Linked DNA regions of Homo sapiens. The protein of the gene in region 1 purifies or fractionates together with the protein of each later gene. This does not show direct contact. Each region holds a gene or a part of one and is shown in the gene's direction. Other genes may lie near its edges.

Region 1 (7,078 bases):
AATGAGAAATAGTGTATCTACCTATATTTTCCGCTTTTAATTTTCAAATTACTTTTTCATTAAATATTATCTCTGCCATTAATTTTGCAAAATAATTTTTTTGGGGGACAGTTTTGTCTGGAATGTAATTTTTCCACTCCTTTTCTTCTAAATGTTCTTCTGTGCCAATAAATTTTAGGTATTTTATAACCAAGGTATAGCTGTGTTTTACTCCTAGTCAAATACTGTCTTTTAAATGGCAAATTTAATCGGTTAAACTTCATTTTGATATTTGGACTCATTTCTAATGTTTGACTTTGCATTCTAATTTGTCATGCCAGTCCTTTCTGATTTCCTGCTTTCCACTGGACTATTTTTTTTTTTTGCTATTACCTTCTTTCTAGTCTACATTAATTTTATTATTTTAGTGGTTACATTTAATATCATAAAATATAAACCTGACTTAAGAAAATATAACAATCAGTATGTCTGTCCTCCTTATAAACAGTACAAGGACATCAACATGCTTTAATTTGTTTCAGCCCCTTTCATCTTCTGTAACTACTCTCCAGTGTTTTTGGTTTTTTTTTTTAATATTCTAGTATTATTGTAGGTTTTTTTTTTTTTACAACTAGTGTATTTATTTAGATAGATTTATACTTTTACCTCTTCCTTTGGCAATATTATTGCTTATTGCATCTCAGTCTTTCTTCTGAGTTCAGTCTTTTTATTTCAGTACATTCTTTAGCATTAATTCTTCTAGTATGAATCTGAGTGGCAAAACTTTCCAATCTTTGTCCAAAAATTATTTCACCCTTACACAAAAAAGAGTTCATCTGAGCACAGAATTTTAAATTGAAAGGTATTTTGCTTTAGAACTTAGAAGGTGTTATTCTATCGTTCCATGACTTCTGTGATTTCTGATGAGAAATCCATAACATTGTAGTGGAGGAAGCAAAACTTTACTTCTACCCTCAGGATATTTTGGTTGGGTTTGAGAATTAAATTGACATGAGAGGTCAACAGGAGAAAAGCATATAAATTTATTGAATGGAAGTTTTACGTGGCACAGGAGTAGGAAATGAAGACCCGAAGACAAAGAATGGAATGCTTATGTGAAGAATCTGACAAAGTGAAGTAAGTTGTGAAAATGTGACAGCAAAGGGGCTTGGGTTAGAGTAATTAATTAGGTGGAGAAGTGACTAGAGAGGTAAGGGTTGGTGTAACAAGGTTTATTTGTACAGATTTTCCTTGGCCTTAATTTTCTGTCCTTGATGAGAATGATACTTTCCTTCTGGTATAGGGAGGGCATCTTTCATCTCCTGCTTTTAAGAAACAAAAGGAAGGTCAGAGTGTATGTGCATCTGCTGTTTTTCAAGTGTCTATCTCCAAATAGTCAATATGTCAGAGTGACATATTTTGAAATGGTGTGTTCTGAATTCCTTCAACGTGATTTATCATAAAAAGTAAAAGGAGGCTGAGCATGGTGGCTCATGCCTGTAATCCCAGCACTTTGGAAGGCCGAGTCGGGCGGATCACCTGAGGTCAGGAGTTCGAGACCAGCCTGCTGAACATGGCAAAACGCTGACTCTACTAACAATACAAAAAAAAAAAAAAAATTCGCTGGGTGTGGTGGCAGGCGCCTGTAATCCCAGCTACTCAGGAGGCTGAGGCAGGAGAATCGCTTGAAGCCGGGAGGCGGAGGTTGCAGTGAGCTGAGATGGTGCCATTGCACTCCAGCCTGGGTGATAAGAACAAAACTCCGTCCCTGCCCTCCCCACCCAAAAAAAAAAAAAAGTAAAGGGAAAAAAGTGGCATATATTTGTCTCAGTTGCTGCTGAAGTTTTATTGTTAATAGCCAATATTTATTTTTAATTAACAACTTTTAGCAATTTTGGAATTACACAAATCCCATAAAAACCCAGCATTAGGCATAAGACAGTGTCATATTAGTCTGATTATAATAAAAAATAAGTCAGCCGGGCATGGTTGCTCACGTCTGTAATCCCAGCACTTTAGGATAAGGCCAAGGTGGGTGGTCAGGAGTTCGAGACCAGCCTGGCCAACATGGTGAAACCCCGTCTGTGCTAAAGATATAAACATTAGCCAGACATGATGGTACATGCCTGTAATCCCAGCTACTTGGGAGAATGAGGGAGGAGAATCGCTTGAATCCAGGAGGCAGAGGCTGCAGTGAGCTGAGATCAGGCCACTGCACTCGTCTGTGCGACAGAGGAAGGCTGTTGGGGGGGAAAATAAGTCAATATCACCATTTTTATTATCACGTGTAACTATTAGACAATGCATTTAGACAAAGTCAACTATTTAAAACAACAGGACAAAATTATATGATTTTTCTGCCTACCTGGAAAACCACAGAGGAAAAAAGCTGGACAACAGAAATGACAGAATAAGGAAGGAAATACAAACCAGTACGAATATCAAGAATGTTCTATCTGTAAAACATCGTCAATCAGAAAACATAATAAAAGAAACCCTTCTAATATTTCCCCAAAATACAGTAATAAAAAAGAATACCTGGAGATAAACTCTATGAAACGTGTGAAAGTTCTATAAGAAGAAATCAAGGCTGGGTGCGGTGGCTAACACTTGTAATCCCAGCACTTTGGGAGGCTGAGGCTGGCGGATCACCTGAGGTCAGGAGTTGGAGACCAGCCTGGCCAACATGGCGAAACCCTGTCTCTACTAACAATACAAAAGTTAGCTGGGCGTGGGGCAGGCGCCCGTAATCCCAGCTACTCAGGAGGCTGAGGTAGGAGAATCACTTGAACCTGGGAGCTGGAGGTTGTAATGAGCCGAGATCACGCCACTGCACTCCAGCCTGGGTGACAGAGCGAGACTCTGGCTCCAAAAAAAGAAGAATCAGAAACTTCTGTAGGTAAATTGTTTTGAAAAATCAAGGGGGCATGTCTCCTGTAACATGTATTCACAATTTTTTAATATATTTTATTCTATCTAAACATTTAGTTTAATGCAATTTTAATAGGATTGCATTAGAGATAGAAATAAAAGTATTATGTAGTGCATTTGGAATAAAAGAATACACAGGTTCTCTTCTATAAAGTCAAGTCCCTCCTCCTCTGCCTTGGCAAGTCTGAGAAGTTAAGTGCCACTTTCTTGACAAAGTATCTACATTAATTACTTGGAATTCATCTGTTTAGGTTTGTCTTATATCCTGATTTTAAGTTTTACATTTGCCATGTTCTAAATATTACCCAGTTTTATTCAACATATAGTTGCCATTTCTGTTTTCAAATATCTTCAATTTTTGCCGTCCCTAACTGCATCCCTTATTTATTATGTATGCAGGTTAATTCATACTTTTGTAACTTGATTGTCCTTACTCGGCATGTTTTATTTTATAGAACTTTACCTGCTTCTATACATGCCTTATTATGTGTAGACATCAAGTGTTTAGCAGTTTTTTTTTTGGTAACCAAATGATTTTTTTTTTTTTTGAGGTAAGGTCAACTGTTGAATATCGTACAATAATTTTTAATTTAGTTATTTGGCAGCGTTACTGAATGGGTTTTGCTTTTCACTTTCTCTTGGTGTTTACAGCACAAACTGCAAACACAGATCAACAAACTATTTTGCCTCTTTTCAACAGTCAAAACTTTTGAAGCATATACTCTTCCAAATTTCTAAACTTCAAATTATGTTCGGCCTTCTAGTCCCATTCCTGCCTGAGTCTAACACTAGTATCTCACCATCACATATGGCGTAAGGCTTCTTTTTGACATATTTTACTTACATTTTAAGAAATAATTCTATTATTCTTTACAAAGTACGTGAAACCACAGGTATCAAATATATATGCTTACCCAAATTTTAAGATTAACTTACTTACATGCCACATTTAATTATGAGTATTTCGTGAAACTACCATATTTGAAAGGAAATTCTCTAAAATGTACTTTAACCAGCCAGACTGATGTTACCTGGATTTAAACAGGAAGATTACACCTCTCCTGCTTGTAATGCAATTTTCACTTCCATGTGTAACCCTTAACATAACTAACATACATAAATCTAGTTTGAGATAGTCTCGCTCATGTCACCCAGACTGGAGTGCAGTGGAGCAATCAATCTTCGTTCACTGTAACTTTCGCCTCCCGGACTCATGAACAACCCTCCCACCGCAGCCTCCCGAACAGCTGGGACTACAGGCCTGCATCACCAGACCCAGCTAGTTTCTGTGGGGACAGGGTCTCAATTATGTTAACGGTCAAGCCCCAGGCTTGAACGACCCTCCCGCTCCAACCTCCACTGAAGTGCAAGTACTGACTGCTCACAAGCGTTAAGCCACCTCGCCCAGTGACATATATAACCAAAATTACCTCAAACTAATGGCCGATGGAACGCTCCTTGAAAATTCAGTCCCCGTACATTCCCGAAATGCGCTTAAACGGGCATTTGTGACAGGCAAGTAAGATGGCTGGTTAACAGCAGTAACGTTTTGTAACGTACAGCCTTTTTCTGAGACGGTAGGTGGCTCTGAAAAGAGCCTTTTGTTTTTTCTGACACAGAAGTCTTTTTACCAATGACAACCTTAAGTTACTTGCTTTGGGCTTTATGGTGGTGACTCTCAGTCTTCTTGGGCAGCAGCACTGCCTGAATGTTAGGCAGGACTCCGCCCTGGGCAATGGTCACGCCGCCCAAAAGCTTATTGAGTTCCTCATCATTGCGGATCGCTAGCTGCAGGTGGCGGGGAATAATGCGAGTTTTTTTGTTATCGCGAGACGCATTGCCTGCCAGCTCAAGGATTTCTGCTGTGAGATACTCTAACACTGCCGCCAAATACACTGGTGCGCCTGCCCCTATCCGCTCTGCATAGTTTCCCTTACGAAGCAGACGATGGATCCGGCCTACGGGAAACTGCAAACCCGCTCTAGAAGAGCGAGACTTAGACTTGGCGCGTGCTTTTCCTCCCTGCTTCCCTCGTCCAGACATCTCCTCGCATCAAATTGCAGCAACACGAGAACCACATTTCTAGGGCTGCTACTGGGCCTATTTATAGTCTGACTGAGGTTGGCATTTGCTATCTGATTGGCTGATGGCCGTCTACCCAATCAGAAAGTCGTACTAGAATCGCCTCATTTGCATTCACGCCACTTCCCATTGTCCAATCAGATTTTGGATACCGAACGCGGCGTTTGAGGGCCGTGCCTATAAATACCGCATCTTTCATCCTCCAGTTCTGTTTGTTTACTTGGCGAGACTTGGAGCTGAGGTCATTTGGAGCTGTTTAATACTGAAGAGCTGTTGAGCACTGGAAAGTGCTGTGTAACCCTGGAAAAGAACCGTGTAACGCTGCAGAAGTGTGTGGTAGCTATGCCGGAGGTGTCATCTAAAGGTGCTACCATTTCCAAGAAGGGCTTTAAGAAAGCTGTCGTTAAGACCCAGAAAAAGGAAGGCAAAAAGCGCAAGAGGACCCGTAAGGAGAGTTATTCTATTTACATCTACAAAGTGCTAAAGCAGGTCCATCCGGACACTGGCATCTCTTCGAAAGCTATGAGCATTATGAATTCCTTCGTCACTGATATCTTTGAGCGTATAGCGAGCGAGGCATCACGTTTGGCTCACTACAGCAAGCGCTCCACCATTTCTTCCAGAGAGATTCAGACAGCAGTGCGCTTGCTACTGCCGGGAGAGCTGGCTAAACATGCTGTGTCTGAGGGCACCAAGGCTGTCACTAAGTACACCAGCTCCAAGTAAGCCTGCTAAGTAAACGTCATTTCTAACCCAAAGGCTCTTTTCAGAGCCACTTAAACATACTGAAACAGCTGTGGGCTTCGTTTTTGTGTAGTTTCTAACCGTAAGGGTTTTTTTTTTTTTTGAGGCGGAGTCTCACTCTCCCAGGCTGGAGTGCAGTGGCGGAATCTCGGCTCACTGCAAGCTCTGCCTCCTGAGTTCACGCCATTCTCCTGCCTCAGCCTCCTGAGCAGCTGGGACTACAGGCTCCCACCACTACACCCGGCTAATTTTTGTATTTTTAGTAGAGACGGGGTTTCACCATGTTGGCCAGGATGGTCTCAAACTCGATCTGGTGATCACCCACCTCGGTCTCCCAAAGTGCTGGGACTACAGGCGTGAGCCACTGCGAATATATCCAAATCAGCTGTGGGCCGAGGGTAGACGAACTAGTTGCAGCAAGACAATCCTTGCTAGGCACCGTGACTCGCCTGTAATCCCAGCACTTGCAGAGGTCGAGGCTGGCGGTTCATGAGGTTAAGAGACGGAGACCATCTTGGCCAACAAGGTGAAACTCCGTCTCTACTAAAAATACAAAAATCAGGTGGGCGTGGTGGCGTGCACTGTAGTCCCAGCTAATTGGGAGGCTGAGGCAAGAGAATCGCTTGAACCCAGGAGCCGGAGATTGCAGTGAGCCGAGATCGTCACTGCACTACAGCCTGGTGACAGCGAGACTGTCTCAAAAAACAAAACAAAAAAACCCCCTAGTTTGTATAAAAGCTACATGCTGATACTGGTATATTTAAGGTTAGCATTACACATAATAAAACTAAAAAGCGCAGCGACATAGACAGTATAACTTGCATTATGATCCCAAATTTTAAGACCTCACAAAAAGGGAATAGTTTAGAGGAAGTTACGTTTTGTGCCACAGGTAAGTCAAGGTGTGGAAATGATTGTGCGAACTCTGGAGAACTCACAAATCTGGTTAGCAGGAATTAAACGGATTTAAAATGTCCCTTAATTTTCTTAAATTTATAATAGTTTCCTTCATTGTCATGTTACTGGTTGTTGGACTCCATCTGTAAGAGCTCCCAAGCATTAAACTGATTTCAGCCACCTTAAAAATGGATCAAATATTACTTCCTGGAAACCTGTGGTTAGCTGGAATTCTCAATTTGTTTAACGCATCTTCATTTAACCTTTATCTTTTAACAAAATTTTGGATATGTATATGTGCTTTCTCTACATTAAAAAGTTAGTACCGGCCGGCGCGGTGGCTCACGCATGTAATCCTGCACTTTGGGAGGCAGAGGAGGGCAGATCACGAGGTCAGGAGATCGAGACCATCCTGGCTAACATGGTGAAACCCTGTCTCTACTCA
Region 2 (8,099 bases), on another chromosome or scaffold:
ATCCCCAACTTTCTCCTTACTGGTAGCCAGTGCTCCGCAGATGCTGAAGAACCGCAATTAGTTTCACTGATTTTATGGTGTGTGAAGGCCTTAGGCTGTGCTTTTGACTGGTAAGTATTTCTATACCAACCTCAGAATTTGTCTTAAATTTCTAGAACTGTGCTGCTGGGCCGGATATGAGCCCAATATGTTACAATATGTCTTTCTCAGATCACTTTTTATTTTTATATATTATTTAATTTTTAAAATTAAATCCCCTTTTATTTACTTATTTATTTTGACACAGTGTTGTTCTGTTGTCCAGGCTGGAGTGCAGTGGCACGATCTCAGCTCACTGCAGCCTCTACCTCCCAGTTTCAGGTGATTCTCCTGCGTCAGCCTCCCGAGTAGCTGGGATTAGAGGCATACACTACCACACCCGGCTAATTTTTGTATTTTAAGTAGAGACAACATTTCGCCATGTTAGCCAGGCTGGTCTTGAACTCCTGACCTCAGGTGATCCGCCTGCCTTGACTTCCCAAAGTGCTGGGATTACAGGTGTGAACCACTGCGCCTGGGCTAGATCACTTTTTGATTCAGTCTCTTTGAACAGTTTCCAAAAGGATCCCAGCATAGGGGCAGAGTGCTTATAATTATTGACTTCGGAGACAGTTTGGTAGTAATTTTCTTGTATGTTACCATCAGGCCTATCACACAAGTAAACACTTTTTTGTTTGTTTTTTTGAGACAGAGTCTCTCTCTGTTGCCAGGCTGGAGTGCAGTGGCACTATCTCGGCCCACTGTAACCTCCGCCTCCCGGGTTCAAGCAATTCTCCCACCTCAGCCTCCTGAGTAGCTGGGACTACAGGTGCGCACCACCACGCCCAGCTAATTTTTGTATTTTTAGTAGAGATGGGATTTCACCATATTGGGCAGGATGGTCTCAATCTCTTGACCTCATGATCCACCCGCCTTGGGCCCCCAAAGTGCTGGGATTACAGGTATGAGCCACCATGCCCAGCCCACAAGTAGACACTTTTATATAGCCACACAGATTATTTGTGATTTTCTAGAATAAACAGTTTGTTAGGATTTGAATTATGACCTTGCGTTCAGTGTGGTGTTTAAAAAAACTCCGATTACTCAAATTGGTTTTGTTTTTTCTGTTGTTGTTTTGAGATGGAGTCTCGCTCTTGTTGCCCAGCTGGGAGTGCAGTGGTGCGATCTTGGCTCACTGCAACCTCAGCCTCCAGGGTTCAAGCGAGTCTCCTGCCTCAGCCTCCCGAGTAGCTAGGATTACAGGCATGCGCCACCTCGCCTGGCTAATTTTGTATTTTCAGTAGAGACGGGATTTCTCCATGTTGGTCAGGCTGGTCTCAAACTCGACCTCAGGTGAGCCGCCTGCCTCAGCCTCCCAAAGTGCTGGGATTACAGGCATGAGCCACCGTGCCCGGCCTATTAAATTGTAAGCAGTTATCATGCTCACATGTATATTACACTTGTCTTATAAAACTTACAAGGGAAAAAATTGTTATAAAATTTTCATTCTACAAAGTAATTTGTGTGTATTCACGTGAGAGGTTGCCAAAGTTGGTAAGATATCGGGAGACATGGCTTTTAGGTTCCATAACCTAGTAGTGGTATACTTTTTTGTTTGTTTGTTTTGAGACGGAGTCTCGCTCTGTTGCCCAGGCTGGAGTGCAGTGGCACAGTCTCTGCTCACTGCAACCTTCTCTTTCTAGGCTCAAGCGATTCCCCTGCCTCAGCCTCCCGAATAGCTGGGATTACGGGCTCCTGCCACCATGCCTGGCTATTTTTTTGTATTTTTAGTAGAGATGGGGATTCGCCATCTTGGCCAGGCCAGTCTCGAACTCCTGATCTCAGGTGAGGTCAGGAGGTTATCAGCCTGCCTCAGCCTCCCAAAGTGCTGGGGTTACAGATATGAGCCACTGCACCTGGCCAACTTTTTAAAACTCTGTAAGATAAAATGGAATGTAATTGAAATGATCACACTTAATTGGAGTTGGACTTTTTCTCATGAGTCCAACCTACCTTTCATATAGGCAGGAAAAAATGCTGGCATTTGTATAAAAAACAAGCTTTTGTGCTAGACTCTGTCCAAGGCATTTTAAATTGTGTTACAATATCCACCCAGCTGACCTTAGAGATAGATGACCTTTCCTTTCCCTGAGAGCTGGTAGAGCTAATGAGGCTCAAGGCTTAGATATAACCCTCCTGCTGTTGGCTCCAGAGCCTGTGCTGTACTAGGTTTGTTGCCTGCTCAAGGCACAAATCAGTCAGTGGTAAGTGCGGCCCTGGAATCCATATCTTCCTGCTGTGCCCCTCTTTTTTTTTTTTTTTAATTTTAAAGCTATGATGAACCTGAAATCTAGATTTAGGTGAAATACTGGAAAGGGTGGTTTTTGTGACTGCTTATGGTTTTGTGACCCCCTGGGAGTTCCCTAAACTTTTACCTTGCCCATACTTGGTCAGTTTTGCCAGTGTACTTGAGATTTAATCTGTGAAAAAATTTCTCTTTTCATACTTAATTCCGTCATTCTGTCCTGAGCTGAAAACTTTGGTATCAGCTTAAAGAGTAACATAATACGTAAAGGGCTATCTCTTCCTGACTAGTTTACAATGCACTAGAATCATTTTGTATGGTGACTGCTCTCACTCAGTTCGACTGGGTGGGACTCAAAAGATATATTTACCAAAGACAGTTCTTTCCACAGTATGCCTTAAGCCTTCTTACTCATGGGGACTTTGTGTTCAAGGCACCTTAGTACTCATTCATTCTGTCTGGGGCTTTGTCTCTGCTGTCTTCATTTTCTTTTTGTGGAGGTAAAAAAGTAACAAGATAAAGCAAAACAATAAAACCATTGAAGTAAAACGGTACATGACAGTGATACCTTTGAAATACAGTAAGCCTGGGCAACATAGTGAGACCTGGTCTCTGCAAAATAAAAAAGGCCAGATGTGACGTGGGTGCCTGTAGTCCAGACTATTCAGGAGGCTGAGGTGTGAGGATCATTTGAACCTGAGAGGTTGAGGCTACAGTGAGCCATGTTGTTGCCATTGTACTCCAGCCTGGGAGACAGAGCAAGATCCTGTCCAAAAAAAGAAGAAAAAGAATACAGTATACTGAAATCAAGGTATTTATAGTTAGTAGAGCATAATTTGGTCACATTGCACTGGATAGTTTTTGATTATTGGTTAGGCTGTTGAAAGTCCTGTAATACCCTTGGTACATGTGGTATGGGTGAAAAGGTTCTCATGGCGACAAACACAATCAGTACTTTCTGTGTAAGAGCAATGTTTGCTTTTTGGGTAATATGCGTGACCCAGCAGGAAGATGAACTATAACATGAGTTAGCTGGTATATCCGTGGCTTATTATCTGGTGTTTCATAGTGGGGAATTAAAACTACTAGGGAAAATATCATTATTGCAGTATGCATATGTAAGCTGTTCTATAGGAAAGAGTAGAAATTCATTGGAACATTTGATATCAGTATGATTGGAAGATGGTTTCCACTTTTGAATGTCATGTCCCTGAATGTGGATTAAGGTCCGCGTGCATGTGTGTGCTAATTTGCATTAACAAGTATTTACAGGCATTCTAAGTATGGGAAATGTGATGGTGGGCAAGAAAGAGCCTACTCTGGAGACAGACTGTAAACAGTAAATAAAAATGTCAGGTGATGATAATAGCGGTGAAGAAAATAAGAAAACAATGTGAAATAACTCAGGGGATGTTACTTTAGAGTGGTCACAAAGATAATCCCTGTTCTGAAGCCTTTTCTGCCAGTAGGGCAGTCGAACTTGATCTGTGGGCTGGATGAAAATGACATTAAACAAAGTAAATAATTTGTTTAGCCCTGAGCATCTTGAGAAGTTAATCCAAAGGATGGAAGTGGGCTGGTTGAAGTGTTCCCTCTGTTTATATCTTTTTGGTTTGTGAATAGGGACCTGGCTCAAAAGAGCTTAAGGGAGATCATTAGTGGTACCTTGTAAAGGCTAAGAAAGAGGAGTGTTGTCTGCTTTTTTTAAAAAATCATCCTGATAAAAAATGTGGAGATGTATTGTAATATTGGTGAGTGTTAGACAGTGTAGGAAACATTCTCTGGTTATGTCTGTTTCTCCCCCCTCCCCCACCCTGCCCCCGCCCCGCCCCCGCCCCACTTTAGATCTAGACCTGTAGATGTGTTCATGTTTCTGTGTTGGGGATCTTCTGTTTGGGTAGGGGGGTGGGGATGTCAAGGAAAGCAAGGATAGCTCTAAGCAGAGGCTCTGGCAAGGGAGGGAACTGTGCGGATCAGAAAGGCTTTGTTAACCATAGCCAGGAGGGCTCATCCTCTCAGTCTTTCCCAGCCAGCTGGCATCCAGCGTGCCTTCTCCCATCCTTTCCATACTCTCTGATTATAGAATTTTAGAGCTGGAAGACACCTAAAAAATTGTCTAGTCTAACCCTTTGGCTTTACAACTCAGGAAGATGCCAAGAGGCTGGTCATTTACCCAAAGTTATGTGGCTTTATACTGACAGAATCAAGGGTAGGACCTATTCTTTGCCATCTATGCCCCACGCTCTTACCAGCATAGTTCACAGTGGCTCTTGAGTGGAAAAAGGAAGCTCCTGGGTGTTAATGTACTCGCTTAGGAAAAAGCCTATGTAGTTCCAATCTTAAGATATCAAGGAGAGATGGCACACATCAAGCTTGAAAGCAGAGACAAAATTGTACTGCTGTTAATTTTCACAAAGATGTGTAGTGTTGTCTTCTTAGGCCCCATTGGTTTCTCTCATCCTAATTATGCCTTGGTCCAAAATAGGTGACATGGAGAAACTTCCTTGGCCATGATCAGATTTAGTTCATTTAGAGTGAGGCCTTTTGGATGTAGGGTGAAACTCCTGATAGGTGGCTAAAATGGGTTTCTAGAATTGAAAAAGAGTTAAGGCTCCAGCAGCTTACCTCCAGACCTCAGTTTCAGGGAAGCCAGATTTCACTGCTGCATTTAGAAGTGCCCTAAGGATGAAGCACTACTTTGAGAGTCTGGAGAATGTTCACTGTGCTTGGCAAGAAATAGGGATTCTTGAGAAGTCAAGCAGGGGTACTTCTCTGGGCGTTTCCCTGACTTAGTGCTGTGGGAGACCAATTACCTGAGGCCAGATTCTGTATCCCTTTGGTAGTGATGTGAGAGGATATTATTGCTGAAGAAAGTCCACGTGATGGAAGGCAGCAGAGCGTGTGAAGGAGGATGTGCAACCTCATCCTGGCTCCATCACTTGCTATCAGTGACTTTTGGCATTTTGCCTGAGCTGTAGTTTCCTTATCTGTGCAACGGAGATATATCTTCTTTTGGGCTGTTGGGGGAAGGCACTAAAATAGGAAAAGTATATGGTGAAGTGGACTGCCTGCAGGTGGCACTCAGAATGGTAGCTGTCCATTAAACCATCAGTCTATGTTGTGCTATGTACTAAGACACTGGACTGGTCTTAGTCCAGTGTCTAAGAGCAGGGCTGGTCCGTGCTAATTCTGTTGATTTTATGTTCTCAAATATTGGCCTAGTATATAGTAGAGAAGGGCAATTAAATAGGGTTATCAAAAGTATTCTCATAAGGGGAATAGAAGATGCTGTACCAGGTGTATAACCCTGACTTGAGAGGTCACTGGAGGGTTCTCAGAGCGGGACCATGTATTTCCTCATCAGCCTGCTGAGCTCAGTGTCTCTTCCCACCTCTGGTTGTTTGTCCTCTTATGCTTGACCATTGGCATTCTCCAGACCCTATTTTTTCAGTGTCCTTTCTCCCTCGGTGATCTCTGATCTCCCCAGGCTTTTGTTTGTTCATAAGATGATGATCCCCACATTCACATCTTCAGCTAGATGTCTTCTAGCGCCTTCAACTCCTGCTCGACACAGCGGCTTGACCATCTCACTGGTATTGTGAGCTTAAGTCCAAAACTGAACACTTATTCCTCACAAACTCTTTGTCCTGCATTTGTCCCCAACTCTGTAAGGGGCTCTACCGTTTACCCGGTTTCTCAAATCAGATTCCTCCTTTTCTCTCACCACCCTCTACCTCTAAATCTATCATCAAGTTACTGTCAGTGCTATTTCCATAAGATGATAACTTCTTTCATCTGTACTGCCACTACCCTCTTTACCTCTTACCTGGAACATGATGATGGCCGCCTCATTTCTGCTGGTGTCTGCCTCTATTCCACTTCACCCAGAGCGGCCAAGAGTCGTATGTGTCTGCTTAAAATCTTTTAATGGTTTTCCATAGCACTTAGATTCCAAACTCCCCCACATGGTTCACAAGGGCCAGAATAATCTGGCTTCTGCCTGCCTCTCTGACCCTCCTGCTGCTTTTGTTCACGGCCCTCCAGTCACATTCACTTTTTTTTAGGCCCCAGAAGGTAGCAAGCTCTTTCCCACCTCTGGAACTTTTTTCGAGATGGAGTCTTGCTCTGTCACCCAGGCTGGAGTGCAGTGACTCAATCTTTGCTCACTGCAACCTCCGCCTCCCAGGTTCAAGTGATTCTCCTGCCTCAGCCTCCCGACTAGCTGGGATTACAGGCGCCCGCCACCAGGCCCAGCTAATTTTTGTATTTTTAGTAGAGACAGGTTCCACCATGTTGGCCAGTCTGGTCTTGAACTCCTGACCTCGTGATCTGCCCACCTCGGCCTCCCAAAGTGCTGGGATTACAGGTGTGAGCCACCATCTGGAACTTTTTTATATACTGTTTCCTGTATCCATAGCACTCTGGCAAGCCTAGCCTTTTTCTCATCCTTCAGGATATTTGTTGAATGAATAAGAGGCAGCAAAGGGGATGGGGCAAGGAGGAATGTATCCTGAGTGCATCCACAAAGGTCTCAAAAAAAAAAATGTAGAATGAAATATGTTTGAAGAGCTGAAAGACTGTGAGTTTGATTGTGGCATAGGTAAGAGTTATTTAAGCAAAACACGTAGGAGTCAGGCAGCTGGAACTTGAATGCACTGCTGATGGGAGTATAAAATGATGCAACCACTTTGGAAAACTGGCAGTTTCTCAAAAAGTTGAACATACATCTGCCCTGTGACCCAGCAGTTTAATTTCTAGGTATTTATCCAAGAGAAATGAAAATGTCCACAAATAAGACTTACATAAGAATATTAATAGCCAAATAATAACCAAAACTAAACAGTCCAGATGTCCATCAGCGAGACAGTAGATAACAAATTGGCATGTTCATACAATGGAAGACCACAAACAAAAAGGAACAAACTACAGATACGTGTAATAAGGATTAATCTCACAAATATGCTCAGTGAAAAACCAAAAATCATATGTAATGGGTGATCCCACTTAATGGACATTCCAGAATGGGCAGAACTTATTTATGTACTAGATTTCAGATTGGTGTTGCTTCTTGGGTAGAAAGGGATTGACCAAGAGAAGATGTGAGGGAACTTTTTAGAGTATAGAAATGGTTAGGTCTTGATAGGCATTCATCAAAACTGATTAAATCATATGCTGTATGTGATTTGACTGTAAAAATCACCTGTAACCTGCAGCCAAAAACAACCCAGGAATTGTTCTAGATTCCTTTTCCCCCTCACTCTCAACATCTAATTGCTCAGCAGGTTCTGTTCGCGTTATATTCAAAACATAAGTTTGGGCCAGTCGTGGTGGCTCACATCTGTAATCCCAGCACTTTGGGAGGCTAAGGCAGGTGGATCGCTTGAGTCCAGGAGTTTAAGAAAGGCCTGGGCAACACAGTGAGACCCTGTCTCTAAAATTTTTTAAAAATTAACCAGGCATGGTGATGTTCATCTGTGGTCTCGGCTACTTGGGAGGCTGAGGTGGGCGTATTGCATCTGCGAGCTGTGATTGTGCCTCACAAAAACCATATACATATATGTATCTCTCATGAATTTGTTCCCTCTCATCTCAAGAACCATACCCTCTTATCTGAACTGTATTATTAGTTTCCTGTTTTTCCTACCCCCTATTTTTGCCTTCCTCCCAAACCATTTTTTCCACTTATCAGCTAAAGTGATCTCTTAAAAATTCAAATTGGATTATGTCAATTGCCTTCCTAAAATGCTCCAGTGGTCTTTCATTGCTTTCATATGGT
Region 3 (7,236 bases), on another chromosome or scaffold:
CCCGGCCCCCAGGGCCTCACAGTGCTAGACCCACAGGCATGTGCGAGTGGGCTCTACAGCAAGTCTGGTGGGTGACCCCTGGGGCTGTTGAAAAGGGGCTGCCTGGTTTGCCCTCTGGGATTCAGAGGGCAGAAAGGGCCGGCCTTACCCTGGTGACATCACATCCCTCCCGCAGGGGAGCACCAACAGGTGCTGCAGGCCGTGGAGCTCCAGGGCTTGGGCCTCTCGTTCAGCGCCTGCTCCCTGGCCCTGGACCAGGCCCAGCTTACACCCCTGCTGCGGGCCCTCAAGCTGCACACAGCACTCCGGGAGCTGCGCCTGGCAGGGAACCGGCTGGGGGACAAGTGTGTGGCTGAGCTGGTGGCTGCCCTGGGCACCATGCCCAGCCTGGCCCTCCTTGACCTCTCCTCCAATCACCTGGGTCCCGAAGGCCTGCGCCAGCTTGCCATGGGGCTCCCAGGCCAAGCCACCTTGCAGGTATAGGCACAGAGAGCAGCAGGCCCTCAACAGCGGGGAGTTGGGGTTCCCATTCTGCAGGTCCCTGGGTGGTCTAGGGTAGTTGGGAGAGCCAGCCAGTGCCCGGCTGTAATAGGCTATGCCAGGCAAGGTGGGGAAGAGACTGCCAAGCCAAGCCCCAAGGGGGACCCTGTCCGTGGGACTGCTGGGGGCTCACTGCCAGCCTGTGTCTTCCACAGAGTTTGGAGGAGCTGGACTTAAGCATGAACCCCCTGGGGGACGGCTGTGGCCAGTCCCTGGCCTCCCTCCTGCACGCCTGCCCCTTACTCAGCACCCTGCGCCTGCAGGCGTGTGGCTTCGGCCCCAGCTTCTTTCTGAGCCACCAGACAGCACTGGGTAGTGCTTTCCAAGGTGAGCTGACCAGGCACTCCCTGTCCACTCCCTAGCCCTGGGGCATTGAGGGTTTCCAGGACTTTCAGAGGGGGCCCAGGCTGGGCACACAGGGGCAACACCTGTGGTCCCAGCTACTTGAGAGGCTGAGGCGGGAGTATCGCTTGAGCCAAGAGTTCCAGGAAAGCCTGGCCCACATAGTGAGACCCCATCCCTTAAGAAAAAAGCGTCTAGGCCGGGCGCAGTGGCTCACGCCTGTAATCCCAGCACTTTGGGAGGCCAAGGCGGGCAGATCACGAGGTCAGGATATCGAGACCATCCTGGCTAACACGGTGAAACGCCGTCTCTATTAAAAATACAATTAGCTGGGCGTGGTGGCCGGTGCCTGTAGTCCCAGCTACGCAGGAGGCTGAGGCAGGAGAATGGCATGAACCCGGGAAGCGGAGCTTGCAGTGAGCCGAGATCGCGCCGTTGCACTCCAGCCTGGGCGACAGAGCAAGACTCCGTGTCAAAAAAACGAAACAAACAACGTCTAGGGGCCTGGGATGCCAGACCTGGCTCTCCGGGAGGGCCTGGCACCTGGGAGCAATAGATGGATGTGTGGGTACAGGGTCTGCCTCCGAGGGGCGTCTGGTGCCCACCCAGCCAGGCTGACCCCCGCAGGACACACCGAGAGCAGAGTCCGGGCAGCTAGTGTCCTGTGGTCCCCATCCCGTGCTCGCCAGCTGAGTGCTGTTCGCCTGAGGCAGTTCCACTGTGAGCCCACTCAGGCTGCAGAGACTGGGGTCCCAGTGCCAAGAGGCTGGGAATTGGGTGTCATCCAGGGGGAGTGTAAGGGGGGCAGCAATGGTCAGTGCACTCCCCTGGCACCCCCACTGTGCAGAGGCATGTGGCCCAGGACCGTGTGGTTGTGGGGTGGGAGAGGGCAAGTTGTCCAGAACTGGGGGCAGCCGAGCTTGGAAGTCTGGCCCCGCCCTCCCAGCTGGGAGAATCTGGGCGAGAGCCTTTGCCTCTGCACTTGCCACCCCACCCTGCGAGCACTGCGGTAGTGGTTTCCCCAAAGGGGTCCTGAGGGTTCTGGGCCCAGAACTTGGGGTGGGTACAGGGCTGTGGCCACGTGGGGCTGACGGATTCTGGCCCCGGTGCAGATGCTGAGCACCTGAAGACCCTGTCCCTGTCCTACAACGCCCTGGGAGCCCCTGCCCTGGCCAGGACCCTGCAGAGCCTGCCCGCCGGCACCCTCCTGCACTTAGAGCTCAGCTCCGTGGCAGCCGGCAAGGGTGATTCGGACCTCATGGAGCCTGTATTCCGATACCTGGCCAAGGTACGAGGTGGGGAAGAACCCAGAAAATACTGAGCCTCAGAGGCCAAAGGTCCCAGGGTTGCTGGGAGGAGCTCGCCTCTCCCCAGATTCGGGCTGAACTCGCTGAGGGGCTCTACAGAGAGAGTTAGAGGTTTGGAGGTTTAGAAAAAACAGCTGGGGGGCCAGGCGCGGTGGCTCACGCCTGTAATCCCAGTACTTTGGGAGGCCGAAGGGGGTGGATCACAAGGTCAGGAGTTCAAAAGCAGCCTGGCCAACATGGTGAAACCTTGTCTCTAGTAAAAATACAAAAATTACCCAGGCGTGGTGGCGGGTACCTGTAATCCCAGCTACTCGGGATGCTGAGGCAGAGAATTGGTTGAACCCGGGAGGCAGAGGTTGCAGTGAGCCTAGATTGCACCATTGCACCCAGCCTGGGTGACAGAGCGAGATTCCGTCTCAAAAAAAAAAAAAAAGAAAGAAAAAGAAAAAAACAGGCTGGGCGTGGTAGCTTACGCCTGTAATCCCAGCACTTTGGGAGGCCGAGGCGGGCGGATCACGAGGTCAGGAGATCAAGACCATCCTGGCTAACATGGTGAAACACCATCTCTACTAAAAAATACAAAAAATTAGCCGGGCGTGGTGACGGGCTCCTGGAGTCCCAGCTACTTGGGAGACAGGCAGGAGAACAGCGTGAACCCGGGAGGCGGAGCTTGCAGTGAGCCGAGATGGCGCCACCGCACTCCACCCTGGGCGACAGAGCGAGACTCTGTCTCAAAAAAAAAACAAAAAAAGAAAAAAACAGCTGGGGGAATGCTTTTGTACAGCTGCCTGTCTCAGGCTGTGAATTCCTGCCCACCAGATAGGACCCGGGACTCAGGGTGATCTTGCCCCCCGCCAGGAAGGTCCCAAGGGGCACACTAGGGCCCCTGATGCTCTCTCCTGGGGGGTCTTCCAGGCACAACTGGGACCCTATTATTTTCACACTATCACGTGCAGAGTGTGACCCACATCAGGAGAGGTGTTTCCTTCCGATCTCCAACTTGATGGGGGACTCTGCTCCCTTCTGGGCCCCTGGGTGTGGTGCACCTGCTGGGAAGCAGGCAGGGCAGGTGCGCCACTCCGTTTGGCCCCCTTGGGCCTCTGCTCATGTCCAGGAAGGCTGTGCTCTAGCCCACCTGACCCTGTCTGCAAACCACCTGGGGGACAAGGCTGTTAGAGACCTGTGCAGGTAACGCCCTTTCCCTGCTGCCTGCTGACCTGGGGGTCTGATCTCATGGCTCTGGACCCTATGGGAGAAGGGCCACAGAAATGGTACCAGCTCCTCCTCCCCAGCACATCCCAAGACCTGGCTCCTTCGGTTTCCACCAGCCTCTCAGGCTGCCCTGGAAGGCAGACTACCCTCTGGCTTCTTTCTTAGCATGGGCCTGTGGCTCTTGAGAGCACTCCTCCGGGGGTGTCCTTGTCATTCCTGTGCCTCGGCCCACATGAGGGCACTGCTCTTATGACCTGGAGCCTCAGTCAGCTCTCTGGGGAGTGTTGAGAGGAGCCCAAGCTGGGCCAGGCACACCCAGAGCTGGCCACTGTGGCCCTGACCCCTGGGAAGGACCCCCAACCCTAGAGGGCCACCTGCTACTGGGCCAGGCTGAGGCAGAGCCCCTGGGTCTGGCCCGAGGCTCCCTGAGCTGGCATTTGTCTGGGCAGCTTTCCTAGTGTTGGGGCACAGCCTCTCTGGAAGCCAACCTTTGCACTTCTTCCCATGTTATCTCAGATGTCTCTCTCTGTGCCCCTCACTCATCTCACTGGATCTGTCTGCCAACCCTGAGATCAGCTGTGCCAGCTTGGAAGAGCTCCTGTCCACCCTCCAAAAGCGGCCCCAAGGCCTTAGCTTCCTTGGCCTGTCAGGTGAGTGCTGGTATGGTGGCCACGCCTGCCATGTTCGGCCTTTTCAGGGACCTGCCTGAGACCCAGGTGCCTCCTCCTAAGGGGCTGTCACTGCTACCAGCCAGGCAGCAAGGCTGGGCTCCATGAGGCTGGGGCAGCAGGGGGCAGAGTGACAGTGACAGAAAAGGGGCATGATCCCAGCTCCTAAAACCATGGGTTAGGGGGCGAGGTGGGTATCTGCCTCTGGTCTCTCCAACCCAACCTTCAGAGCAGACTATGGTAGGCAAGACCCTGTTCCACAGGGACTTTCTTCTTGTCCCTGGCAGGAAAAGGGATCCCAAGGTCAGGGTGTTGAAAGCTGCCAAGGGACCCTCCTACTTCCTGGCAGGGGCTCCTCTGACACAACCCTGCCCAGGGCTGTGGTCTGATTTAGCTTGTTCTCTCTTGAGCCACATCAGGGCAGTCCCCAACCTGAGCTGTCTGGAAGACAACCCCAGGAAGGGCTTTGATGACCTGGCTTGCCCCACTGGGGCCGGGGCAGGCTGTGCCCTCCAGGGGATGAGGGCTTAAGTGAATGTGCACGAAGCGGGGCTCTGCTTTCTTCCTGTGCCCCCTCCCCTTCACCTCCCAGGGCCAGGCCGCCTTTTCCAGGAAGGCCCCCGAGTGCTGGTGTGAGACCCCTTCCCCACACCTCAGTTCCTGGCATCTGTACCTTCCCACCCAGCTCCCTGAATTCCTGAGCTTAGTGTTCTCTTGATCCACTCAGGCCCACGATGTACAGATTTGCAAGCAGATCCATTATGTCCTTCTTATGGGTGGGGAGACTGACGTGTAGGCATGGACTTTGAGATCGGGCACTGTCAGAGGTAAAGAAGGGAGCCACCCTTCCTCCTGTCTGACCGCTGGCTGTGCAGATGATCCCACCCCTTCCTGGAGAGTCATGGGGCCTCTCCGGAGCTCTGCCCACTGCCCCTCGCTACAGCCCTGGGGCCCTCAGCGAAAGCGAGTTTGTTCCCTGGAGCCTGCCGCGGGCACCAGGACGCCGCCGGCCCCCGCAGCGCTGAGGTCTGCCCTCTTCCCCTCCGCAGGCTGCGCCGTCCAGGGTCCCCTGGGCCTGGGCCTGTGGGACAAGATAGCCGCGCAGCTCCGGGAACTGCAGCTGTGCAGCAGACGCCTCTGCGCTGAGGACAGGGACGCCCTGCGCCAGCTGCAGCCCAGTCGGCCGGGCCCCGGCGAGTGCACGCTGGACCACGGCTCCAAGCTCTTCTTTCGGCGCCTCTGACCCTGGCGCTGCCTTTCCCCACCCTCACCGAAGCCCCTAATAAATGAAGCTGCTGGCCGGGCGCGGTGGCTCACGCCTGTAATCCCAACACTTTGGGAGGCCCAGGCGGGCGGATCACGAGGTCAGGAGATCGAGACCATCCTGGCTAACATGGTGAAACCCCGTCTCTACTAAAAATACCAAAAATTAGCCGGGCGTGGTGGTGGAAGCCTGTAGTCCCAGCTACTCCGGAGGCTGAGGCAGGAGAATGGCGTGAACCCGGGAGGCGGAGCTTGCAGTGAGCCGAGATCGCACCACTGCACTCCAGCCTGGGCGACAGACCGAGACTCCGTCTCAAAAAAAAAAAAAAATAAAATAAATGAAGCTGCTGCCTCCCTCCCCGTGGCTGCCTGGCAGGCGGGTGGGCGGGGTAAGACCGGGCTTCGAGTCTGCTGCGCCGGTTACGTCCCGGGGGCTGCGCGGCTGGAGGGAATGTCCCGAAGTCCGGGCGGGCGCGGGCGCAGGCGTGAGGGCTGAGCGCCGAGCTGCCGATGGGGACGGAGGGGCGGGGGGTCGCCCCGACGCGCGCAGGCGCAGACATGAGGGGCGAATGCCGAGTCGCTGACCGAGCGCACCCCGCCCCCGGCGCCATCTTCCCGACCGCGAGCCGTCCAGGTACCCGGGGCCCGGCCGGTGGGCGGGGAAGGGGCAGAGTGGGGAGAGGCGACTCAGGGCCTGGCACCCTCTGGGCGCGCCTAGGCCCCGGCACAGCTTCGGCTGAGCGCCGCAAAAGTCACGTTATTGGCATGTTCTAGAAACTGGCTTTCCTTGCTCGTTGTCCACTCTGCGAGGTTGTTTTGCACATTTGCTTGTGGCCGCAGAACGTCCGCTTTCGCTGTTAGGCAGAAGCTCCTGCGTGGTTGGGGCGGTTGGCTCCTCGGCGCTCTCCTGCCTGGCGGCTCCGTGACGGCTGCCGAGCAGCCTCGGTCCCCACCCCGCGGCTCGCAATGGCCTCGACCCTCGGAGAGCTTGACCCAGACGTTCCCTACCTACATGAGCGGCGACGCCCTTTCCCGGCTCTTCCTCGGCTGGGGCGCCCCAGGGCTTCGGCGCGGGCGGCCTTCCCTCACTTCTGCTCTTCTCCCATCCCCGGTAGCACCGTCCACTCCCAGTTAGCCGGCTCAGCGCTGCTCTCCCGGGCCTCTCCACCGAGAGCTTCCTGCGCCTGCCCGCCAGGCCCGCTCCTCCTCCCCTCTCCGTCTGAGTTTATCTTACTGCCCGGCCCATTGGGCCAAAAACAGGGGTGTCGTTCGTAACTCCTTTATTTTAATCCTATCTCAAATCCCTCGGCGGATCTGACGGCTCCACTTTCAAAGAGAGAACGTCTGGAGCTGGCCCAGCTTCCGTGCTAGGCAGGACCCTCCCACGGGCCCCGCTCCCATTGTTTCTCCACAGCTCGCTGCCCAACTAGGGGCACCTCTCCATCTTCATTCCCTAGGACCCCCTCTTTCGAGAAGCTGCACCTTCAGCTTGTTGGTTCCTCCAAGTTCATGCCTACTTAAAGGCGGGCTGTTAAGTGTGTTGTTTCCTGTGCCCCAAACTCTCCTCGTGGGCCATCAAACAGCTGCCTGCCGCCCTCATAACCTCCCTCAACCTCCAGCTTGAACCACACTCCACTGCAGCCCCCGCCCCGCTCTCCTGAGTGTCCATAGTACCTCACTTTTTCTGGTAGCCCCTATAGCACCCTGTGTGTTCACCATTATTGAGCTTAGGAGAGCTCTTCATGGAGCCCTGGGTCTCCAGGACCTGGCACTTACGGGCTGTCTTTTTTTGTCGGTTTTTTTTGTTGTTCGTTTGTTTGTTTTGAGACAGGGTCTTGCTCTGTCTCCCAGGCTGGAGTGCAGTGGCTCGGTCTTGGCTCATTGAAACCTTCACCTCCTGGGTT
Region 4 (8,099 bases), on another chromosome or scaffold:
TTCAAGCTTTATTACCTCCCATTGGAAAGGGTGATTTGCAGGTATCTTATCCCAGACCTGTGAGATCAGTGGTTTTCAAGGTAGTCTCATACCAGCAGCATTAGCATCACCTGAGTTTTTTTTTTTTTTTTTTTTTTTTTTTTAATTGCAGGTACTCGGGCCTCACTGGAGACTTACTAGGTCAGAAAGTTGGGTGAGGCTCAGCAGCCCATTTTAGTAAGCCCTCAAGGTAATTCTGATACCCTTAATAAGACAGACCAATCGTAGAGAGCCTGAGGGCATTTGTTTGGTTGCTAATACACCTTTTTTTGGAGTGAACGAAGTACCATGATCTTGTCAGAAGATGAGTTCAAAATAGAGCATGGCTATGTAATTAGCTGTGTGGTTTCAAAGGATTAGTTATAACACAGTTATAAAAATTAAAGGTAGTGGTTAACAGGATAGTTTTGAGGATCAAATAAATAATGAAACAAGCTTTTCATGAACTCTTAAGGCCTATGTAAATTTCAGTTGCAAACTGTTAACGCTTATGTTTTTTTCCTTTTGGGGCCCTTATTCATACTAGTGACTTCAGTGGCTTTTATTCACAATAGTGATCAGTTGCTAAACTTGCTTCTGATTTTGGGGTGCAGGATATGAGCTTAAGAAACGTTACATGACCTGAGATTAGGAGGTCTGGGTATTATAATAAAGTATCAGTGCCTGACGTTTCTCTGCCTGGTTTCCTTATTTGCAAATAAAGGTAGCAAGCACTCCATTTGGTACTTCTAAAGATCTAATGAAATTGTGTGTGTTGACACTGCTTTCATGGTTGCAAGAGAAAAAGACAGTGAAATCAAAGCATCTATCATAAATGCCTGACACATAGAAGATACTTTATGACAGCTATTTGTTATTCTTGTATATAAAACTAGCTTTAGGCTGGGCACGGTGGCTCATGTTTCCAATCCTACATTTTGGGAAGCCAAGGTGGGCAGATCGCTTGCATCCAGGTGTTTGAGACCAGCCTGGGCAACATGGTGAAACCCTTCTCTATGAAAAATACAAAAATTAGCCAGGCATGGTGGTGCACATGTATAGTCCCAGATACTTGGGAGGCTGAGGTGGGAGGATCATTTGAAGGTTGAGGCTGCAGTGAGCAGTGATCATGCCACTGCACTCCAGCCTGGGTGACAGAGCAAGATCCTGTCTCAAAAAATAAATCTAGCCTTTTCATTATATTTCTCTTACTACACTTCTATCTCTTATTTTGAAGTTTTGTTTTAGTTCCTGAGTATTGACTCTCCAGATTCCCAAATACCAATGTCCTGTACCAGATTCTTGGTACATGGACCAGATACTTGAACACTTAAAGCACTGTTGGTGTTGTACTTTGAGAGACACAGTGTAAGAGCTGTCATTTGTTTGCCAGCTGGTTATTTAGCTAGAGTGGCAATACCTTGCCTTGATAAAGTTACCGCTTTTCAGGTTGTAGCTTCTGCAAATCATTAGGGGTCTTGGAATTGATTTATCTTTCAGAAATAGATTCACAAACTCATTCATAACCAGAATATCCATTTGTAATGGGAAATAGAAGTTTTGGATGACAGTTTCTTCCTAGTTCTTCCTAAGAAAATCTTTTCAAATGATAATCATTAATTTCTTCCCACACATGGATTTTGAGTGATGCAGGTTAATTGTATCATCTAATCCAGTCTGATTTACCCATATCCATTGTAGCAATGTGTTTAACACATGAGCTAGACTTACTTCTTTCCATGACTGCTGGAGAAACATAAACCATGTCTTATTTCATGATTACCCTTTTTTTTCTAGCTTCTAAACTGATTGTTTTCTGACTGTTTTGCTTCAGACCATGTGCATTGTATGTGGGTGTGCATGAGTGTATAATATGTTCACATGATTTGGATTAAATTTTCTTTTTATAATCAGAATTCTGTTATGTTTCCCTGATGCTGTGCATTTCTTGTTTACTGGTTAGAGTGAGTAGTTTGTATAGAAAGCTGATTTCATTTCATTGTGTATGGACATTTCTTTTTCATCCACGGAGGGTCTGATTTTTGTGGGGATTGAGGGAAGTCCCTGCCCAAGGCACCATGGTGTATTGATATGAATATGGGCTTTTGGAGTTAGACTGTTTAAATCTGGCTCTACTACTTGTAACTTGTGTGATTTGTGAAGAAATGCTTAACCTGTCAGCCTCTGTTTTCGCATCTATGAAATGGAAATAATATAACAAGTCCGTATGATAGATGGTAAGGATTTCATGAGATGATTTTATATGTAAATGGAGATAACCATAGAGAAGAATATATGGTTAATGTAGTCCATTATCATTTCTGTATATTACTACTGGTTTGTTTGTGTTTTTTTTTTTTTTTTTTTTCATGTGTTCGGGCTGAGCTCTGAATTTTCGTCTGCCTTTCTGGGTTTGTTAACTTATAGTCTATTTCTCATTGTTCTATTTCTCCACCCTCAAGTTAAGTATGGTACTCTTATTAAGAGTGGGCATCCATGCATAGCGTTAACTGTCATTGTGCATATACTGAATTGATTGCAAAAAGAATAGTCCATGTTAGACCAAGGCCACTTTTTAATTATACTTAAAGATCTTGTTGTCAGCAATTATAACTGGTTCATTTTATAGAAATACTTAAAAGATTGGGATATTCCTAGGTTTCAGAAATATTTTCAGTTTTACTTTTTATGATCCGAGAATTCGTAACACAGCTTTTATTCTTCACTATAGAATGAATACTCCACAGATTTGTGGATTATAGCCTGGGAATCAGAAATATCACTGATTCAGAGATTACCTTTTATTTTGATTTATTTAGGAAGGCGACATGCCAATTCATGAACTTCTCAGCCTTTATGGTTATGGTAGTACTGTTCGACTACCTGAAGAAGATGAGGAAGAGGAAGAAGAGGAAGAAGAAGGTGAAGATGATGAAGATGCTGATAATGATGACAACAGTGGCTGTAGTGGGGAAAATAAAGTAAGTCTATATACATATATTTAAGATTGTAGTCTTTATTCTTGTTGAAGTTAAAATTGCTTAATATATTTTGATTACTTGTCTTTATAATCTTTTCCTGATTTTAAAAGTGTTAAAAATTAAGATATTACAGAAATACATAATATAAAAATTGGAAATCCCCTGTAATTTACTCCTGAGGTAACAGTTTGGTCTTGTCATTTCAGGTTTCTTTTTTTCCAGTGCTTATTCTAATTAATTTATACCAACTTTCTAAAAAAATGCTATTGCTTTTAAATAATAAAGGCTAATTGGCAGTTTGTGTTTATTTTTCTTACTTTATTTTGAAATAATTTTAGATTTATAAAAGGTTTAAAGTTAGTATAGAACGTTCCTGTATACTCTTACCTCAACTTCTGCTAAGGTTAACATCTTGGTACAGTGCTATTAACTAAACTGCAGATTGAATTATACCAGTTTTTCTGCTAATGTACTTTTTCCTGTTGCAGGAACCAACCCAGAGGATGATACTACATCTAGTATATTCATTTTAGTCTTCTGCATATATTAGAACAAAATTTATATGCTATGGTCTTTCATCTGCAACTGTTTTCCTTACATCTTAGAGAAATTTAATTTATTATTCCACAGGAGGAGAATATAAAGGATTCATCAGGTCAGGAGGATGAAACTCAGTCTTCCAATGATGATCCATCACAATCTGTTGCTTCTCAAGATGCCCAGGAAATAATCCGCCCACGTCGATGTAAATATTTTGATACAAGTAAGTGTTACTGGTTGATAATATTTGAATATAATTTTTACTATTTTAGGTATTACCTAAAATCCTCTTTTTTAAACTGGTCTTTGAATTCATTTAGTCTGAAATTCTTTTCAACAGTAAATGGATTTTGTTGTAAGTTATTAGTTTAGCAATGCAGGGTCCCTGTTGTTAGTGAATATACTATGGTAATTGTGTCATGTACTACTTGACTTTGGGTGTATTTGTTTTTTCTTTGCCCTGTTTTTAAATGTTTGTTTCATGGTCATCTTTTTGTTTCTCATAGTCTTTCCCTTAGTTTCCATTTTTTACTTTCTTTGCCTCTTAGCCTTTTTTAGGTATATTCATAAATACACCTAAATTTCTCTACTTTAAAAGGAAGAAAAACACTTGAAGAAAAATAAACTGTCATGAAATATGTAGTAAGATAATATTATCTTTATTCTAAATCAGTTTTTTCCCCTAAGTTTTTATAGGAAATCATTTCATGAGAATACAATTATGTAGAAAGTTTATGGTTTTTTTGGTTTTGTTTTTTTAAGTGATAGGGTGTTAATTATTTGGTTAGAAATATCTTGGCTTAATTCATTAGATATCTTTGAGCATATCCAAATATTTGATGGTAGATGTAAAAATAATATGTAGATTTAGACAGGATAAGCAGTCATTTTATAGTATTGGTGTCTTATTTATTCTAGATAGTGAAGTAGAAGAAGAATCTGAAGAAGATGAAGATTATATTCCATCAGAAGACTGGAAAAAGGTAGTTAGAACAATATTTTCCCAAAATTTAGATAAATTAATATTTTTTTAAAAAGCCTCGTGTAATTATTTTTTTTTTTACTAACTATGTATATTGATAAAATCGATGTAAGCCCTTTTATGACATTTAAATGTTTGGTAAATGTTCAGATTCCTTCTTAACACATCTAGGTTAGATTAGAAATCTACATTTCTGGCGGGGTGTGGTGGCTCACGCCTGTTATCCCAGCACTTGGGAGGCTGAGGCAGGCGGATCGCTTGAGCCCAGGAGTTCGAGACCAGCCTGGGCAGCGTTGCGGGACCCTGTCTCATTTTATAAAACAAAACAAAAAATAAATAAAACAGAAATCCACATTTCTGATTTAGTCCTGAACTAGTGCCAAATTAGGCATTTGTTGCCCTGTAAAAAGTATCACGTATATGTTTTTCAATATTATGGAAAGCATTTGTGGAGGCTTTGATATTTGTTAAGTAAATTTTGTTTAGTAGTTCATATTGCAAGTTTTTCATTCTGTATTACTTTATAAAAGAAAAACTCTCCAAATGATTGAATTTAATGTTGACATTTACAACTGATAAGCTTATTATATGAAGAAACAGATTTGGCTTCTTCGTAACTATATACAATTAATTTCTGAAATGAATCTAAAGATAATATATTGAGATTAGTTTTTAATTATAAAATTATATAGCATATAATTAATCATACAGTTAAGTTAAAGAATTGTAAGTTATTGTAAAAGAACTGAGCTCTTAGGAAAAATCTATCTAAACATTATGTAGAATTAGCTGGTTGCAGTGATGTTTCCCCTGTTGTCCCAGCTACTTGGGAGGCTGAGGTAGGGAGAATCACTTCAGCCCAGGAGTTTGAGACCAGGCTGGGCAACATAGTGAGACCCCATGTCTTCAAAAAAATTTTTTATGTAGAACTGGTTAAAACAAAGAAATAATGTTATTTTTGTTGAGAGACAAGGTTAGCCCAGTTTACGGTATGTGTTAATTTGAGCAAATGATGGGACTCGACAGAAAACAAGAATCACAAAAGTTAATTTGTGTGGCCTATTTGGGCAAGGGTTCTTTCATCCTGTTTTTAATCTGATTCCTACAGTGTGCAGAAATTAAGATGAAAAAAGCTAGAAACCTTGGGAGTCCTTATAAATTGCTGTCCCACTTCATATTCAAGTTTATGTATCTTCAACATGTGTTGTTTTTTAATCTGGAGTGTTCAGTAGAGTATTTGATTAAGCATTCAGTGTTTTTTTTTTAAATGAAAGAACAAAAGCTCAGAGGTAGAACACCTCTCATTGCTGGAGGGTATTAATTACCCACACCTTACTCAGAAAGGGTATTAATTAACCACACCTTTCTCAGAAAAAAATTATGTAATAAAGCAGGCCAGAGTAAATGCAGATTGTTTTCTTTCAGTATGATTTTGTTGTTTTAAATAATTGTCAAGGTTCAGAGATTCATTTTTTTTTAAGACTTATAAGATGAAATTGAGTTTTTATAGAAACTTAAGGTAGGGGAAACAGTTTTGAAGTCAAACCTGAATTTTAGTTGTAGCTCTAGAACTTAGTAATTGTGTGCTCCTGAGAAAATCAAATTTTTGAGCTTCATCTTCTTACATATAGTATGGGAATAACAATGTCAGCCTTATGGGGCTTGCTGAAAGATTAAAGGAAAATTGCATATATGATATGTTAACACATAATGATCTTCAAAGCTATTTCCCTTCCCTTCCCTGTACTACCGAACAAATTAACAGATGAAAAGAAATGTTCAGAACTGAACAGGAAAAAGGAAGTACCTATCTTTAAACTAATCCAGATGTTCTCAACCCTGTTTTTATGTTAGAATCATTTGGATAACTTAGATGTACTGACTACCAGGGCCTTCATTCATAGATTCTAATTTAATTGTCCTGCAGTGGATCCAGGCATTGATGGTTTAGAAGCACCCCAGCCAGGGTTAGTAACTTGACAATGTTCTTTGGTAGGCCTAGGTGAGTTAAGTTAAAAGAGGCACAAGATGTGACAATAAAGGACTCTTTTTATAGTAGAAGACATAAAGAGAATTCCATTGTAAGGGTAGAGAAAATTTGTTGTAAGTTTGATTCTTTTTAGAAAACTGATCATGAGAAAGATTGGTTTTTCTTATGGGTATAGAAATAACTTTATTACATAAAGCACGTCTTTGAAGTTGTACTGGATAAAATGAGCTCCTCACATCAGTGAGGTAACAATAGCAGGAGAGAGACTTTCCAAATCCTAAGAGTTACCAAAACTTCTAGACCATGATTTTGTACCTTTCATGCCCAATTTTGAAAATGTCAGTAAATGTGTTCTTAACATTTAGCCATCACACAAAAGAGGGTTCATGTAATCTTGGTCTCCTTGCATTGTGAAATTTCACCAGTGGTAGTTTGCAGTTGCTTTTGAGAACATCCAGTTTCACCTAATCTGTGATTTGACTGTATAGATATGATTACTGGATTTCCTATTTAATTATATTTGTGGGAGGAGGTTACTTTTTCATTTTGTATTGTTTTAATGAAAGTCAAGCCATAACCTGCTTATCTATTTCATTTAGAGTTTCTTTCATTTGGCCCCTACTGAGCTTTATACAAACCCTTTTTGTTATTTTTCCTACTTTGAAGCTCTGTTTTTCAGACTTCAGTCTATGTCAGAATCACCTAGAGAGCTTGTTAAAATACCAATGACTGAGTCCTGTCCCCAGAGTTTCAGTAGGTTTGGGGTGGGACCTGAGCATTTGCATTTCTAACAGTTTCCCATTAGCTGTGTGTGGTGGCATGTGCCTGTAGTCCCAGCTACTCAGAGACTGAGGTGAGAGAATTGCTTGAGCCTGGGAGGTCGAGGCTGCAGTGAGCCATGATCACTCCAGCCTAGGTGACAGAGCAAGACCCTGTCTCAAAAAAACAAAAATTTCATAGATGACACTGATGCTGCTCATATAGGGATCATATTTAAGACCACTGTCTTAAGTGTAGATACTCTGAAAATATCTGAATTTGACTTTGTGTTTTACATGTTTTGCAGTTGTCTTACTAATGGAATTATCAGAATTCACTTCTTTGTCTCTATATTTTGAAATAAAGTTTGTATTTATTGTTTACGTTGCATTTCACCTCAGTATTATTACTAATATTTTCATCCAGTCATTATTTGTCATTCATCTTCACAAAGGTACCTCTGAGGTAGTTAATTGGTTGTTTTTGTATTTTATGACAGAGAAACCAGGAACAGTTTACTAAGATGGTAAGGCTAGAAAATGGATATAAAATCTGTTACTAGATCTTACTAATGTTTTATGTTATTTTTAAAATAGGAGATTATGGTGGGCTCCATGTTTCAAGCAGAAATTCCAGTTGGCATTTGTAGATACAAAGAAAATGAAAAAGGTGGGTTATTAGTAAAGTTACGTAGCTGAATTTATGCTTTCAGTGTAATGAACTGTTACTTTATATGTAAAATGTGATAAGAACATGACAGCCTACTAAGTAACCCCATTGTAACCCCATTGGTTTGTGAAAGAGGACCCTTCATTATTTCTGTGAGAAG

The links.
Region 2: the proteins of H2BC1 (region 1) and TCF20 purify together in Homo sapiens (affinity purification with mass spectrometry; 4 studies listed by BioGRID and IntAct, with this or other methods). This does not show direct contact.
Region 3: the proteins of H2BC1 (region 1) and TONSL purify together in Homo sapiens (affinity purification with mass spectrometry; 4 studies listed by BioGRID and IntAct, with this or other methods). This does not show direct contact.
Region 4: the proteins of H2BC1 (region 1) and MIER1 purify together in Homo sapiens (affinity purification with mass spectrometry; 4 studies listed by BioGRID and IntAct, with this or other methods). This does not show direct contact.

The regions. Positions count from the first base shown.
Region 1 is NC_000006.12:25,721,575-25,728,652, forward strand, and holds H2BC1 (histone H2B type 1-A), read left to right. Parts: upstream 1-5,202; 5' UTR 5,203-5,334; coding exon 5,335-5,718; 3' UTR 5,719-5,771; downstream 5,772-7,078. Other genes in the region: H2AC1 (histone H2A type 1-A), read right to left, coding at 4,558-4,953. UniProt on the Homo sapiens protein: Variant histone specifically required to direct the transformation of dissociating nucleosomes to protamine in male germ cells.
Region 2 is NC_000022.11:42,260,324-42,268,422, reverse strand, and holds part of TCF20 (transcription factor 20), read left to right. Parts: exon of another isoform or gene 1-110; intron 111-8,099. UniProt on the Homo sapiens protein: Transcriptional activator that binds to the regulatory region of MMP3 and thereby controls stromelysin expression. It stimulates the activity of various transcriptional activators such as JUN, SP1, PAX6 and ETS1, suggesting a function as a coactivator.
Region 3 is NC_000008.11:144,427,219-144,434,454, reverse strand, and holds the end of TONSL (tonsoku-like protein), read left to right. Parts: intron 1-175; coding exon 176-477; intron 478-695; coding exon 696-867; intron 868-1,994; coding exon 1,995-2,170; intron 2,171-3,303; coding exon 3,304-3,377; intron 3,378-3,917; coding exon 3,918-4,051; intron 4,052-5,118; coding exon 5,119-5,312; 3' UTR 5,313-5,680; downstream 5,681-7,236. UniProt on the Homo sapiens protein: Component of the MMS22L-TONSL complex, a complex that promotes homologous recombination-mediated repair of double-strand breaks (DSBs) at stalled or collapsed replication forks.
Region 4 is NC_000001.11:66,955,222-66,963,320, forward strand, and holds part of MIER1 (mesoderm induction early response protein 1), read left to right. Parts: exon of another isoform or gene 1-2,837; coding exon 2,838-2,999; intron 3,000-3,629; coding exon 3,630-3,762; intron 3,763-4,457; coding exon 4,458-4,522; intron 4,523-7,866; coding exon 7,867-7,939; intron 7,940-8,099. UniProt on the Homo sapiens protein: Transcriptional repressor regulating the expression of a number of genes including SP1 target genes. Probably functions through recruitment of HDAC1 a histone deacetylase involved in chromatin silencing.